Linked DNA regions of Homo sapiens: region 1 is linked to region 2. A link means that fine-mapping ties the variant in region 2 to the expression of a gene that starts in the linked region. Tissue or cell type: transverse colon. Region 2 holds a variant in brackets; the other region holds the start of a gene. All regions are shown on one strand. Distances are from middle to middle.

Evidence for each region.
Region 1: RNF14 starts here. The variant in region 2 is fine-mapped to the expression of RNF14 in transverse colon (GTEx, PIP 0.97).

The regions. Positions count from the first base shown.
Region 1 is chr5:141,964,576-141,972,908 of GRCh38, reverse strand. RNF14 (ring finger protein 14) reads right to left here and starts at 3,804. Exons shown (of 9, transcript NM_004290.5): 1 at 3,742-3,804; 2 at 2,032-2,205. It overlaps LOC124901095 (a long non-coding RNA gene), which reads left to right and starts at 3,129. Exons shown (of 3, transcript XR_007058977.1): 1 at 3,129-3,301. RefSeq lists an enhancer at 3,622-3,771 and a silencer at 3,882-4,021.
Region 2 is chr5:142,658,011-142,666,343 of GRCh38, reverse strand. All of the region lies in intron 1 of FGF1 (fibroblast growth factor 1), which reads left to right. Among named protein-coding and RNA genes, the nearest start is that of FGF1, 24 kb to the left of the region's middle. RefSeq lists enhancers at 5,400-5,900, 5,901-6,401. The variant C/T (reference allele first, on the strand shown) is at 4,569.

The DNA.
Region 1 (8,333 bases), 690 kb after region 2:
TCCTTTCTTAAGTTAATTTGCCAGGCGCGGTGGCTCGTGCCTGTAATCCCAACACTTTGGTAGGCCGAGGCGGGCAAATCACCTGCAGTCAGGAGTTCGAGACCAGCCTGGCCAACGTGGTGAAACCCCATCTCTACTAAAAATACAAAAATTAGCTGGGTGTGGTGGCTCACCCCTGTAATCCCAGCTACTCGGGAGGTTGAGGCAGGAGAACTGCTTGAACGTGGGAGGCAGAGGTTGCAGTGAGCTGAGATTGCACCATTGCACTCCAGCCTGGGCGACAGAGTCAGACTCTGTCTCAAAAAAACAAAAAAGTAAATTTTTTAAATCCACAGGAATCTTTAGGGCAAGTTTTCTTAGCTTCAGCTCTATTGACATTTTGAAGTAAATAATTGTTGTTGGAGAGCTGTGTTGTGCATTATAGAATCTTAACAGCATCCCCTGGCTTTTACCCACTAGATACCCAATAGTGGCCCGCTTCCACCCACAAGAGCTGTGACAACTGAAAATATCTAGCCAGGTGTGGTGGTGCTTGCCTGTGGTCCCAGCTACTTGGGGAGCTGACATGGGAGGATCACTTGAGCCTGGGAGGTCGAGGCTGCAGTGAGCCATGATAGCACCACTGCACTCCAGCCTGAGTGACAAAGTGGGACCCTGTCTCAAAAAAAAAAATATCTCCAAATAGCGCCAGGTCCTGGGGCAGGATGGGGGTTGGAGGCAAAATTGCTCCCAGGTGAGAAAACAGTGCTTGAGAATGTTACAGGCATAGATATTATGGAAGAAAATTAGATAACTGAGCAAGCAGCAAAATAATATTAAATTTTTGAAATAATAGATTTTGTCAAATCCAAGCAGTCACCAATTTAAAGATTCACCATTATGACTCAAGAATATTTAAAAGATAATAATTTTAAGAAAGATTTACCATTATTTTAGGTAATACTAAGAATTTAGCTACAAGGCCCAGGCACAGTGGCTCAAGTCTTTAATCCCAGCACTTTGGGAGACCAAGGCAGGCAGATCACTTGAGGCCAAGAGTTCAAGACTAGCCTGGCCAACACAGCAAAACCCCATCTCTACTAAAAATAAAAAAATTAGCCGGGCATTGTGGTACACGCATGTAATCCCAGCTACTCGGTGGCTGAGGCACGAGACTAGAGAATCACTAGAATCCAGGAGGCAGAGGTTGCAGTGAGCTGAGATTGCACCACTGCATTCCAGCCTGGGTGACAGAGACAGACTCTGTCTCCAAAAAAAAAAAAAAAAAAAAAAGGAAAGAAAGAAAGAAGAAAGAAAGGAAAGAAAGAAAGAAAGAAAGAAAGAAAGAAAGAAAGAAAGAAAGAAAAAGAAATTAGCTACAATTAAAGTATGAACTGGCTGGATATGGTGGCTCATGCCCGTAATCCCAGCACTTTGGGAGGCCAAGGCAGGAGGATCACTTGAGGCCAGCAGTTTGAGATCAGCCTTGGCAACATAGCAAGATCCTGTCTCTATAAAAAATTAGCCAGGTGTGGTGGTGTGTGCCTGTAGTCCCAGCTACTCAGGAGACTGTGGCAGGAGGATCGCTTGAGCCTTGGATGCTGAGGCTGCAGTGAGCCGTGTTTGCACCACTGCACTCCAGCCTGGGGGACAGAGCAAGACCTTGTCTCAAAAAATAAAGTATGAATCAATGTTTTTTAAAATAGCATCAACTGAAAGATACAGCAATTTCAGATAATTTAAATGTGAAAAAAATATGCAATGAGAATTTACAAAAATCATTTTAATAAAACAAAACTACCAGTCAATTAAAATATTGAACTACAATTGCATTTGCAAATATCCTCCCTCACAACTAAAATATTTTTAATTAAAATGTACATAAGTAAAAAGTTAGGATTTTTTACATTTTAAAAGGTCATACTATGAAATTAAAAATGATTTCATTTTCAAAAAACACTTTTTTTCTAGGAGATGTTAGTTCATGGCTCTGCTTAAGCTGCATCCCTATCTAAGACACAATTACATGTTCTACTTGAGGTCAGTTAGTACCTGTTAATAACAATCAGAAGAAAAGGATATTAACACCGCAGTCTGTATTTCAGCTCAGAGTGGAGTTCATGCAAATCCCATTTATTCTCTAACTGGTGGAGCTGAGACTGCTGAAGCTGGGTAAGAGGCCAAGATGTGGAACTCATACTACATATATTATGAAAATCCTGCCATCTGCAGAAAAGAAATACAAAAGATGGTGTTAGGACCCTCTCCAAATTAAAATTCTGAATTTCCATGATCACTGCTTAAGTCAAACATATCCTAACATATAGCCAATCCTAATCTACAAGTGCATGTTACTCTCCTAGGGCAGGCTAACTGAGCCATGTGGTTAAAGGAGTATTTGCATGTCCCCAGCAATGACTGAGGACTTTTTATCTGTCTGCCCTCAGCTATGGGAGGAGCTAAGGAGGAACACCAAGGTCATATGAAAGTACAGGACACCATGCCCCATAACAAACAATCTCTTCAGTTTGTTTTTTGTTTTGTTTTTTTCTCCTTTCCTCTTCTGCTTCTTGTATTCCTTCATTTGCCACTCCCCTCCAGTTTTTCCTCTCTTGTTCATGAATTAAGCCTGCCAGTGGCACTCAAGGTTAATTTTGGTAACAGAAAAATACTTAAACAAAACAAGAGTACACAAACACAAACTTTTAAGTTTTATTCTAAATGCTTTAGAGCTAGGCTTCTTCACTGGGGTGAGGGGAAAAGGGAGTGTGGTCTATAGATGGGCTACGGAGAATCCTATCAACACCCTAAAATTATATGCAAAAATACTATATACAAAACCATAATTAAAAACCAGATTCTCGGATGTGTAACTCCCAAATGAGATAAGAATGAGATTCAGAATCAATTTACATTAATTGAGCACCTACTATGTACTGTATTAGGTCCTTTCACATTGTCTTATTTTACTAGGTGGGAGTATATGGTGCTAATTGAATTAAGCTTTTTGTTTCTTCCTGTTAAAACATTTGCAAATGGGATGAGAGATTCATTCATGCAGTTTATGGTTTTAGGTTAGTGTTCTCCATCTGACTGCACATTAGAATCTTCTGAGGAGCTGTTTTTTAAAATCTCAATACCCAGGCCACACCCTAGAACAATTAATTCAGGCCTCAGTAGTTTTCCAAGTTCTCCAGGTGATTCCAATATGCAGCCAGGGCTAAGAACTTCTACTCCAAGCAGTTTCAACAGTTCCTCATGACCTACCCTACAAGATTTCAGCTTGTGAAGCTGTCACTTGGAATCCAGTACCTCAATTCAGGTTGCTAACCCCCATTTCCTTCTCACTCTATCCATTTGGTCTTCGGGTGTCCTAGTCTGGGTTCAGCTCGCCACTAGGCGTGCGGCGTCGTTTGGGCGACTGCCCCAAAACAGGGGCAGGCCCAACGCTAGCTATCCGCCCCAACGCTGGGATCAGAGGGCGCAATGCGGATGTGTGAGCTGCTGGCCAGCCTGGGGCGTCCCGAAGGAGCAGGGCCCACACCTTCCCCTTCCTCCTCAGCGTCCCGAAGGGAGTCCCGGCCAGCCGAGCTGCGGACGCCCGGTCCCGGATTTGAGGGACTGAGGCCCAGTGTACAGTCCCAGCCCGGTCCCCTTCTCTGCCTCGCGCGCCCAGAGAGCTATCCCCACCGTACCTTCCGGCCGCCCGGCAGTGCCGAACCCCAAAGTTCCGCCCTCCGCCCTTGCCTGGGGCCCACTCACCGCCGCCAGCCGACCAGGCCTAGAGACGCCCTGCTCAACCGGCGCGCCGCCTCTTCCGTTCTCGGGAGCTGTCAGCTGAGCCAGGCGGATCCCGCTGGCGCGACCGCCGGCATAGGGAGGACTCTGCGCAGCCGCCGTGGTCGCCCCTGCCTCTCGGGCGCCTCCCGCAGGCCCAAGGCGGCGCTGCCGGCGCGACCACCGTCACCCCCACTTACTGCGAGCCCTGTGCTCACAGGAGGCTCTTTTCAGTAGTTCTGATGGGGCCCGAGAATTCGAATTTTTACCAATCTCTAGAGGGGATCATGAGGCAGTGGTCTACCTAGGGCAGAGACTCTCACAACAATCCCAGACCTGCTTCTCCAAGTGGACTAAGCAAGCCTACTTCCTCCCGTTTACCTTCTCAGAAATGCTGCCGGTCTTTCTGGCACTCCACTGTGGAAGCACGCATTCATCGCTCATGTTATAACTGTAACACCGACCGCATTTATCGAGTAGTTAGGATGCTTCAAGCAGTGTGATAAATGCTCTACGTAAATTTTCTATCTTCACTGTAATCTTATGATTTAGCTACCATTTGTTATTCTCACTTTACAAATAAGGAAATTGAGACTTAGGTGCAAGAACTTACCAAGGGTCACATGATTATCGTCAGGCTAAGCAGGAATTAAAATTATACACTTCCTTCCTCACACCATATGCAAAAATTAACTAAATATGGATCAACGACCTAAATGTAAGAACTAAAACTATAAAACCCTTAGAAGGCCGGGTGCGGTGGCTCACGCCTGTAATCCTAGCACTTTGGGAAGCCGAGGCGGGTGGATCACGAGGTCAGGAGATCGAGACCAGCCTGACCAACATGGTGAAACCCCGTCTCTACTAAAAATACAAAAAATAAGCCGGGCATGGTGGCGGGCACCTGTAGTCCCAGCTACTAGGGAGGCTGAGGCAGGAGAATCATTTGAACCCAGGAGACAGAGGTTACAGTGAGTCACTGCACTCCAGCCTAGGTAACAGCGAGACTCCGTCTCAAAAAAAAAAAAAAAAAAGTCAAACACAAAAAGCCATATATTGTTTTTAATTTATATGAAATGTCCAGAATAGGCAAATCCATAGAGACAAAAAGTAGTTTAGTGGTTGCCAGAAACTAAGGCAGGAGGGAATGGGAAGTGACTGCTAATAGATACCGCTAATAGATATGGTGTTTCTTGGGTGATGAAAATATTGTGGAATTAGAGAGCAGTGATAGTTGTATAACTTTGTGAGTGTACTAGAAACCACTGGATTGTATACTTTTGAAGAGTTAATTTTATTGCATGTGAATTATGTCTTAATTAAAAAATTTTTTTAGGTACAAAGCACCGTTCTCAGCGCTTAAGTGGAATACAGAAATGTTGGCTCCTTCTCCTGGGACCCATCAAACTAATGTGCTCCTCACAATCTAATAAGCTCCTGTGTCCGCTTTTTCATATATTTCTTCCTCCAAAAGAGTAACTTGCAGAGCTAAGACTCTAACCCAAGCCTACAGGATTCTAAAGCTTTTACCACCATTGCCTCCCGGGCAGGATTAGATTCATGGGCCAGCAACCCGTGCAGTCACATAGGGCCCTGCACTTAGAAGGGCCCCAGATTTAGAAGTGGCCTGCTCTTAAGAATGATACAATGGACTTTGGGGACTTAGGGGGAAGGATGAGAGGGGGACGAAGGATAAAAGACTACAAATAGGGTGCAGTGTATACTACTCGAGTGATGAGTGCACCAAAATCTCACAAATCACCATTAAAGAACTTACTCATGTAATCAAATACCACCTGTACCCCAATAACTTATGGAAAAATTAAAATAAAAAAGAAGTGCCCTGCTCTTGATTTGATGCTGTGCTCTCACCCTCTTGAAGTTCTTAATAATTTCTGAATGAGAGGCTGCATTTTTATTTTGCCCTGGGCTTTGTAAATTATGTAGTTGGTCTTATACCCAGGAGAGAGAAAAAAACCAAGTGAGTAAATCAGGGCACCCAAGGGATTACCTGGCTGCCACAGAAAGAACCTTGAAATAGAAATAATCACTTCTAATTTTCTGTACTATAAATCTTGATTGTCACAAAACAGAAACCAAAATACCCTTCTAATAGATACCAAAACCAGAAACATATCTCGGAAAAATGCAAAGGACGGAAGAAGAATCTCCAAAGCCATTCATTAATATAATTATTCATGTTTAGCCAAAGGAATTAGACCAAGAGCAAAACACACAGCAACCCTACCTCAGAGTGCTCAGAGAGGGGAGACCAGAGACCTCTTCGTGAGGAAAAAAGTGAGGAAGCCCATGCACCAACCAGCTTGGGAAATCCTCACAAAGTCAGAGCAGAAGGTGAATTGTGACATCATGTCAGAGGTCACAGGATAGAGAGAATAGAAAGAGAATTTCAAAGCAGTGTTAATAATTTACTGAATGTTTAAAGTGAACTAAAGATTTAGAGTCAATTTTGAGGACAAGATTGGGTAAAGACAGCCTTCTAATAAGTTTTGTTTTTGACTCTAGGAAAATAACAGACTTTTGTGTCTTTGGTCTCATGTGCCTGGTTAGTCTTTTAAACTGCAGTCTCCCCGTGTGCCTAGCCCTCCACTGTGCTAAATATTTCACGTACATTCTCTCATTTAAATGCCCAGGACCCTATGACTTAGGTAATTTTATGTGCCCACTTGACAGAAGAGAAAACTGAGGCACTAAGATTTGTTTTTTTAATAAGGCCTTTTATATTTACACAATTACTATTTATGACATTTTTATTTATTTTTAATATAAAAAGATGTAATAAAAGACAGCAATGTCATAAAGTTGAAGTCAGGTGTATTATACTTTGGGGTTTTGTTTTGTTTTTGAGACCGAGTCTCACTCTGTCACCCAGGCTAGAGTGCAGTGGCACAATCTCAGCTCACGGCAACCTCTGCCTCCCGGTAGAGGGTTCAAGCGATTCTCGTGCCTCAGCCTCCTGAGTAGCTGGGATTCCAGGTGCACACCACCACATCTGGCTAATTTTTGTATTTTTAGTAGGGATGGGGTTTCACCATGTTGCCCAGGCTGGTCTTGAACTCCTGGGCTCAAGTGATCCACCCGCTTTGGCTTCCCAAAGTGCCGCGACTACAGATGTGAGCCACGGCGCCTGGGCCACTTTTTTTTTTTTTTTTTAACTTTTAAGTTCATGGGTACATGTGCAGGTTTGTTATGTAGGTAAACTCGTGTCACGGGGGTTTGTTGTACAGATTATTTCGTCACCCAGTGACGAAATATTAAGTCTAGTACTTTTTATTCTTCCTGATCCTCTCCCTCCTCTCATCCTCTCATCCTCTACCCTGTAGTAGGTAGGCCCCAGTGTGTGTTGTTCCCCACTTTGTGACCATGTGTTCTCATCATTTAGCTTCCACTTACAAGTGAGAATATGTGGTATTTGGTTTTCTGTTCCTGTGCTAGTTTGCTAAAGATGATGGAGGCACTAAGGTTTGGCCAGTATCACACAGTGGTGGAGCCAGGGTTAGAGCCGATTCCTCATCAGTCTGACTCTCTCCAGGAGCCTGTCAGAGAATAAGGGTTTTTTGTAACAAATTCACAGAGAGTAAAATAGTTCTGGCCTTAAGAACTAAACGGGAAGGCCCTGGGGAAGTTAGGATTCGAGTTTATGACTTAAGGATAGGTGAGAATGAGAACACAGACAGAGAAAGAGACCCAACTCCCACCCCCTGTCCCCAGGGACACCGGATGATGACGGAGCCTAGGGAGAGGAGAGGTTACAGTGTACCACCTAGACCAGAGGTCGGGACCCAGGCCACGGAGTGGAGAGTAGAAGTGAGTCACAAACTATGGCTTGTCACTATAGGGGTTAGCAGACCTGACGGTGCCTGCATTTGTTCCCATCCATCACTGGCATCTGGTAGCTGTCCCGAAACTTTGCTGAACTCATCCCACCATCCCAGGGGGGACTGCCTCCTTTTCCATGGCCACCACTCGCAAGCACTCCTGCAACAAGCCCTTGAACACAGAGGGGCAGCAGTGTGGAGAGGAAAACCCTGCCCAACTTTTGGATAAAACTGAACCTTAATGAGCCCTACCCCAGTACAGAAGTGTCCCTGACTTCTTGCTGGTCTCTTGTCATTGTGTATTTGCTCATCATGTAGATCTTAAAAGTCTATTATCATGTGGGCCTCTGAAACATTGTTTTTTTTTAAAAAAAATTAGAGGTTTCAGGCCAGGCGTGGTGGCTCATGCCTGTTATCCCAGCCCTTTGGGAGGCCGAGGCAGGTGGACCACCTGAGATCAGGAGTTTGAGACCAGCCTGGCCAATGTGGTGAAACCCTGCTTCTACTAAAAATACAAAAAAAAAAAAAAAAAATTAGCCGGGCTTGGTGGCGGGCACCTGTAATCCCAGCTACTCGGGAGGCCGAGACAGGAGAATCACTTGAACCCAAGAGGCAGAGGTTGCGGTGAGCCCAGATCGCACCATTGCACTCCAGCCTGGGCAACAGAATGAGACTCTGTCTCAAAAAATAAAACAAAATTTAAAAAAATAGAGGCTTCATCCTAAAAAATTGGAAGTG
Region 2 (8,333 bases):
AACAAGTTTTAAAAAGCTAAGATTGTGTGTGTGTGTGTGTGTGTGTGTGTGTGTGTGTGTGTGTATTACATGCTCCTTAGACCATTAGAGTCATTCTGGTGGGGTTATGAAACCAGGGAAAAGTCCTTTTTCGCGAGGGCCATGATGCTGATACAGATTTCACCCTAATATAACAAGACCTTAAGGGTGAGCACTGGGTAAAGTTCAATCAAGTCTGAGAACTTTTCAGCAAGTGCCATACTAGAGTAGCTTGTGTTATGATGCAATTCCACTGGCAGTCAAAGTGGCAGGCAAAAGTCTGGGTTTTCCTGACCCTGGGTGGTGGAGCAGGCCAGTTATCAAAGGCAGGCTGTAGGAGCAGGGGGTCTCACCTTGAAAAAAGAAGGGTTTGCCAGAGAGCCAACCTAGGGGGAAGTCATTAGCTCCATCTTGAGTGCTCATGAGATGATGAGAAAGACTGGGGATCGAGAAAAGAACAGGCAACGCTTGACTACCTGTGGGCCTCTCCAGCCTCCCCAAAGGAAAAGCTTATTGGTTGTGCTTGAAGAGGAGAGCTACGTACCTGTGATCCTCTTAGGATCACTGTAGAACCTTCAGTGGGAAGGACCATGGGTTTCTGAAGATATGGGGAGGCTCTAAGTGTGTGAGCTATTAACGTTAAAAGCATGAAGCTTTATTGGTAGACAGGACTCAATGGGTAGAGATGAGAGGCTTTGAGGAGAACATATTGAGGTCACTGAGTGTTGAGGGAATTCCGGGAGGACAGAGGCAGCTAGCTGGATGCAGTGAGCCAGGGTGGGAGAGGAGACAGGAAGATGAAGAGACAGAGAAGCCTTGTTGGGGGGAGGTCCTGGGTCATTCATTGCTTGAGAAAATCCCAGCCAGAACCTGTGGCGACCTTTTCCAAGGAGGAGTGAGCCAGTACTTTTTCCAAGGTAAACAGCTCTAAAGTAATGTTTCCAGAAGGGGCCAAAGTCCTGAGGAGGGGAGTGGGACAGGGGGAGATGGAAAGCCCCACCCAGAACGGAGGATGGAAGGGCAAGGGGGTGGACGAGGGGCAGGGGTGAGGGGTGTGAGGTGAGATAGAGCACTTGTGTTGTCTTGAGGTTCCCAAGGTATCTCAGGAATATTTTTCTAAAGTAAAGTTTGTGAGTTTTGTTTTTTATTTTTTGAGATGAAGTCTTGCTATGTTGCCCAGGCTGATCTCAAACTCCTGGGCTCAAGCAATCCTCCACTTCAGCCTTCAGAGCAGCTGAGATTGCAGCACAAATAACACTTTTTATAAAATGTAATACTGTTACATAAGGCAATGTTACTGTTTTTCAATGTTACTGTTTAATAATTTGTTTTTATCATCCTCATTAACATTTATACAATGCAGCACTGTGTTAAGCACCTTACGTAACTTTACCTCATTTTATCCTCAAAATAACCCTATGAGTTTAGGTAATACTGTAATCTCCATTATAGAAAAGAGGAAACTGAGGTTCAGAGAGGTGACGTCACCTCGCCCACATCTTACTGCTGTTAGCAGCGGAGTCAAGACTTGTCCTCAGCTGGGCTGACTCCAGAGCCCAGGCTCCCATCCACCAGGAAAAAGACTCAACCAGCTTAGAAGAGGAAATCCCTGGACATCGACGGTGTCATGAATGAAACACAAGCAGAGCAATCACAAAACACCCCACTGCCACTTACTGGATGGCTACTTCCATATTTTATCAGATCTAAGATACAGTAAATTGGAAGTTAGACCGTCACTTCATGTACCATGAAGAAAAAGAATGTTGCACGGCCTGATTTTAGAGACGTTCAAATACTGAAAATATGTGCATCTGAGGCTTGATAAAATATTACAAGCGCCATACCATGCTAGGAGCGTTGCCTCCACGATCTAATTCGTCCCAAAGACAGCCCTTTTGTATCACCACTACATTTGCAGAGAATACAGGGCTTAGAGCAGTGGCGTCCGTGCCCATAGCCAGTGACACGGCGCTAGGGAGCCGCAGAGCCTAGATCTGTCCTTGGCAACTTCCTGGGCCCAAATCCCTGCCTTGCCTGACCCATCAGTGCACGCTGCCTGGGAGGTGGGGGGCGCCTTTGTTATTTGTTCCTTCAGGTGGGCAGCCAGCTTGGCAAACAGAAAACACAATGGAGCATCTAACTGCAGGAAAAAAGAACACTTTGCCTCCTTCCTCCCCCTGGGGCTCATCTGTGCTTGGGCTCACTTGGAACTGCTCACTCCCCCTGGACTTTAGGGGTGCTGGTTGTGAGGCCAGGTGACCCCTTCAGCAGGACCCTAGCAGCAGCTCTGGCCATTGATTTCCTAGTTCATAAGCCTCCATGGTATAGGCTCTTTCTTGGGCCCATCTCTTTCTTTTCCCGAGCTCCACTTGTGATTTGCGCCAGATTTGGAAGCATCATCCCTGACGCTGAACTTTATTCTTCCCACATCTTCCTTGCCTTCTCTCATCTCTCCAAGTGTCTTAACTCTTCAGCCTCACCCTGCCTCTTCGAAAGCCTTATTCATGTCTTAACCACTTCCTAGCTCTGTTCACATCAAATCGCTAATGGTTTTCTAGAATTCCTGCATGTTAAGATGGAAATCTGGGGCGAGAGAGGTGGAACGAAGAGGTTGTCTGTGTGGAAAAAAAAGTCAACTGGACAAGTTTCCTTGCTTTGATTTTTGACCCCAAGACCTCCCTCCTCCGCTGTGGGCTGTGTACGTATAAGCTGGCTTCTCTTGGTTTCTCAACTCGGGTCATCACGGAGTATCTTCTTGCCTTCTGTCTCGACCTCTTGGCTATCTTTCCAATAAGTTTCCATAGTGAAGAAGGCAGTTGTACTTAAATTAGATCTTCCCCATCTCTTTAAAACACCCTTGTTCTCTCTCCTCCAAGCCACTGAGTCATACTTTCCCATCTTCTCAAAGACTTCCCTGTCACTGGAGATGAGGGCTAGGACTTGGCACTTTCTCCTTTTCTGATTTTACTTCCTACTTCAACAAGAAATTAATATCACAACTTGAAAAGCCTTCCTAACTGGTAAAATCGTTCTGCTGGAAAAGCTCATTATCTTTTTTCTTTTTTTTTTTTTTCTTTCCTGATTAACCTGCTTCTCACCTATCCTCTGTCCTTCGGAATCTTTTTCTTTGTATGGCTGTCTCAACTCAGCCTAACTTTCTTTCAAAGCCCTGCTGAGAAGAACTTTAAAACATTTTGTATGCCAGGCACAGTTGTGCACGCCTGTAATCCCAGCACTTTGGGAGACTGAGGCAGGTGGATTGTTTAAGCCCAGGAGTTCCAGACCAGCCTGGGCAACACGGCAAGACCCCATCTCTACAACTACAAAAAAATGTATCTGGGCCTAGTGGCACGTGCCTGTGCTTCCAGCTGCTTGGGAGGCTGAGGTGGGAGGGTTGCTTGAGTGCAGGAGGTCGAGGCTATAATGAGCTGAGATTGTGCCACTGCACTCCAGCCTGGTGAGGGAGTGAGATGCTGTCTCAAAAAAAAAATTACAATTTTAATACTCTAAACCTTTACTGGATGTTAGATTTATTTATTTTCAGTATTTAATCAAAGTATGAAAAGTGCTACCTACAGGTTTCCTTTGTTCTAAGTTCCCCCAGGGCAAAGAGATGTCTGTTTCATTCACGCACTCCATACACAGAGGAGGCTGCAGAAAATATGTGCTGAATGAATGAATGAATGACCAGCAGTCATCACTGGGCTTTTGTGTCCATTTACAAAGTAAGCTCATGTAGGTATCCATTCATTCAACAAATATTTATTGAGACCCGACTGTGTGTCAAGCCTTGTGTTAAGCATGGTGGGTATAATAGTGACAACATCAACAAAAATCCTTCCCCTCTTGAAGTTTATCTTCTAATGGAAAATGACCATTCAAAAATCATTGAATTGGTGTCCACCTAATATTGAACTCTAATAAGCATGTTGGAGAAAGTCTCAAAATTACAGAAAGTTGAATTCACATTTGCTCCAAGAGAGCTAAGAAATTGGGAAAAAAGAGACACTATTAGTGAACGAGGTGAGAACATTTTTAACGGCTTGAGATATAATTCACAATTATACAGTTCGTCCGTTCAAAGTGTATAGTTCAATGGCTTTTCGTATATTCACAGTGTCATGCAACTACTGCCACTATCTAATCTCAGGACACATATGAATCAGCAGTCATTCCCCGCTTCCCCCTCCCTCAGCCCCGGGCACACCACTAATCTACGTTCTGTCTCTAGATATTTGCTTATTCCAGACATTTCATGTAAATGGAATCGTACAATATGTGGGTTTTTTTTTGTCTGTGTGTTTTTTGTTTTTTGTTTTTTTTGAGACGCAGTCTTGCTCTGTCGCCCAGGCTGGAGTGCAGTGTAATCTCGGCTCACTGCAACCTCCACCCCCTAGGTTCACGCCATTCTCCTGCCTCAGCCTCCCAAGTAGCTGAGACTACAGGCAACCGCCACCATGCCCTGCTAATTTTTTGTATTTTTAGTAGAGACGGGGTTTCATCGTGTTAGCCAGGATGGTCTCAATCTCCTGACCTCGTGATCTGCC[C/T]GCCTTGGCCTCCCAAAGTGCTGGGATAGTGAGCCACCGCGCCCGGCCAATATGTGGTCTTTTGTGACTGGCTTTTTAAACTTAATATAATGTGTTCAAGGTTCATCCACATTGTAGCATGTATCAGTACTGCATTCCTTTTTATGGTTGAATGTTTTGCATGGATATGCTACCTTTTGCTTATCCACTCATCATTTGTTGCTTTCCATTTTTGGCTTTATGAGTAACTCTGCTATGAAAATTAATGTACTCTTTTTTGCATGAATATGTTTTCATTTCTCTTAGTTGCATACTTAGGTGCTGGATTGTTGGGTCATATGGTAACGCTATGCTTAATTACTTGAGGGACTGTTTTCCAAAGTGGCTGCACCATTTTACATTCCCACCAGCAGTGTATGAGGGTTCCAATTTCCCCATATCCTCACCAACACTTGTTATTGGGTGCCTTTTTGATGAAAGCCAGCCTAGTGGGTGTGAAGTGATATTGCGCTTTTGATTTGCATTTCCCTGGTGGCAAATGGGGTTGAGCATCTTTTCAGGTGGAGATGAGAACATCTGCATCATGTTTGTGAGGCAGCTATTGATCTGGTGTCCAGCACAATGCCTGCATGTCACAGGTGCTCAATAATATTTGTTGAATGAATGTAAGAGTGGAGCAAAGAAAAGTACCTTGAAGGACAAGGCTTCTATTAGCTATGGCAAGCCTGCAAGAGGAATGGTGTATGATGGATAATATTTTGCAGATATGAAGCAATGCATTTTCCCCCTCTTACCACATATCCTGCCTTTAAACCATGTTCCATTTGGAGCCTCTCTTCTCAGAGCCTGGGCCAGGAGTCCTGTTGCCTGGAGCCAGAGAAGGAAGGAGGAACACAGAATAAAGAAGACAGCTGGCTCAACCACCAAGATTTGTGGAAAGATTTGCAAAATGGCTTTCACTCCATTGTAACATAGCAGGGGCTAGGCCTGGCAGATAGACTGTGGGATTTCTTTTACCATGGTAGGGGATGCCTGTCTGTCACTGGGCTATGGGGTATGGGGTTAGAAAAGAAGATATGGAGTGTGTGTCTTTGGCATTAAAAACTTGCTGATGAGCTGAGGAGAACACGGAAGGCAGGGCAGCCCTGCAGCATGGGGAGGCCTGCAGAGTTTGAGAGGCTGAATGGGTGTGATCAGAAGGCGAGTGGGTGTGCGTTACACTCCAGATTTCTGCTGCTCCTGCGTGATATAGATGCTGAGACGAGAGCCAGAGGCCATTGTGGGGTGACCCTGCAGCAGAGCGGGGGCAGACCTCCTGGGCAGGGAAGGAGAAACCCACAGCCAACAAGAGCTGGCCAGCCAAGGAGCCGCCCTGGGCCCTGACCCAGCCAAGAGAGACCAGCGGCCCCAACTTGAGTCATGAAGGCCAAAGGGTGGGCAGCCACAGGGCAGGCTGAAGGCTCCATGCTGGAGACCCTGTGCCGGGGGCCAACTCTTCCCTTCCAGTCAGAGGCTGAGTGGCTCCCACTCCTCCTAAAACCATGCCGCAGGGAGGGCGGCTAAAGACAGAGGAGCTGAAGGACAGAGCTTTACTAACAGGACTGTTTAATTCTCACCCCGGATGAGCGTGAAGATGGTTTTCAGCTGCCGCACAGTTGAGGCCTCGGGAAGAAGCCCAGAGAAGAGACAAATTAAGAGAAACCACAGTCATGTTGTGTGAGAAAACGTGTGACACTGCCCATGGCCTGTTTATGGACCGGTCAGCTCAGCAGTGAAATCGCCTGACGCAGGGCCTGCAAGACCAGAGATGCAGTCCCATTAGTGTTGCTGTGGCAGTGGCCACTTTCAGAGGCCTGCTCTGGAGTCAAAGAGCTTCTGATCTGAGCAAGAGAATTTCTCCCCTTCGACTAGAGAAACAGACCAAAGGGCATGTTCCCTGTCATCTTTGGCCGTGACTCTCTCAGAAGCATTTGGAGACATTTGGATGGGCCAGGCTGAGAAACATCACTCCCACAACAATGGCACCCCTCAGCTGTGTTCCAGGCTCTGGGCTAACTCTTCACATGTGTCACTGAATCCTCCCGCCAGCAACTCTCTGAAAGATTTTGTTATTCACATTTTATAGATAAAGCTATGAAGCCTGAGTGGTTTCCTGGGATCTGCTGTCAGGCAGCATTTGAATTCAGTGATGTAACTGCCTGTGCTGGGCACTTAACCACCGCTGACACTGCCTTTCATCATTCTGCTTCAAAGTTCCCCCTTAAAACTGATGCAAGGGCTGGGCGCAGTGGCTCACACCTGTAATACTTTGGGAGGCTGAAGTGGGTGGAATACGAGGTCAAGAGATTGAGACCATCCTGGCCAACATGGTGAAACCCTGTCTCTACTAAAAATACAAAAATTAGCTGGGTGTGGTGGTGGGTGCCTGTAATCCCAGCTACTCGGGAGGCTGAGGCAGGAGAATCGCTTGAACCCGGGAGGCAGAGGTTGTAGTGAGCTGAGATCACGCCACTGCACTCCAGCCTGGCGACAGAGCGAGACCCTGTCTCAAAAAAAAAAAAAAAACTGACGCAAGATCTGGTGAAGCATTTTATCAAAGAAAAATACAAAAAAAATTATTATCTTTTATTTGTAAAAAAAAAAATACATGCCTGTTTCACTATAACAAGGATGGCGACCATGGAACCAAAGTGATAAAGAACCTGAATGAGAGCTCATTTCAGACATTCTTCCCCCAACACACGCCAACACCAGCAAATGCAAGGCTTCAGCATTGTTGGTTATGTAATTGTTCTCCAAAGACATTATACCCAGCTCATCTCAGAGTGCATGCTTCCGCTTGCCTATCCATCCAGGTTTTCTTCTCACAATTACTGAGCCTACCACATGCCAGGCACTGGGGACTCAAGTGACCTGGCAGTTCCTCCCCTGGAAGAGTTCATGATCACGGCAGAAGCATCCCCAGAGCACCATGCACACAGGTACCAGGACGGCAACTCTCCGCAGCCTATACTTTCTCTTCCTTCAAATCTCAACTTAAATGTCACCTCTTCAAGGAGTCTTGCTAGTCGGTCTTACTCTATTTTTCTACCTCAGTTCCTTGATACCGAAGGAAATATCCTCCAAAACACAACTGACAATTTTTCTTTCTTTGTCCTTTAACTCGTGAGTGTGTGCGTGTGTGTGTCTGCTGCCTGTGAAGCCCCACTACAATGTGGTCCCATAAGGGCATGAGCCACACTCTCTTATTCACAAAGGTATCTCCAAGGCATGACACATCCTGGGTGCTTAGTTTGTTGATTGAATGAAAAAAAGTTGCAACCAGATAGTCAAGAGCCTTGAATGCCATGCTAAGAAGTTTGGCCTTTGGCCTTTAGGCAGTGAGAAATAACAGGAAATGTGATCAGGGGCAAGGCATGAACAGATCTGTGAATGGGAAGCCAAGGATGGCCATGTTGTGAATGAGGTAAGGGGAATAAGCTACAGAGAGAAAAACTAGAAGCAATTGCCATGGATAAGGCTTGAGAATTTGCTGGCCTGACCTGAGACACTGATGGAAGGAATATTTAAGAAATATTTAGGTAGAATCATTTGGAGATGCCTGTGGGAGTGAGGGAAAGGGAATATGACTAGGGCATATTAAGTGGCTTGGGCTATTTTGTAACCACTGCACTGTCATTAATTAAGCAAAGGCAATGGAAGAAGGAGAATGCAAGACGTCCACCGTGGGCTGTTATCTGCAGAATGTCCTGGAAGATTTCTTGGAGGTGATGGGAGCTTTGAATG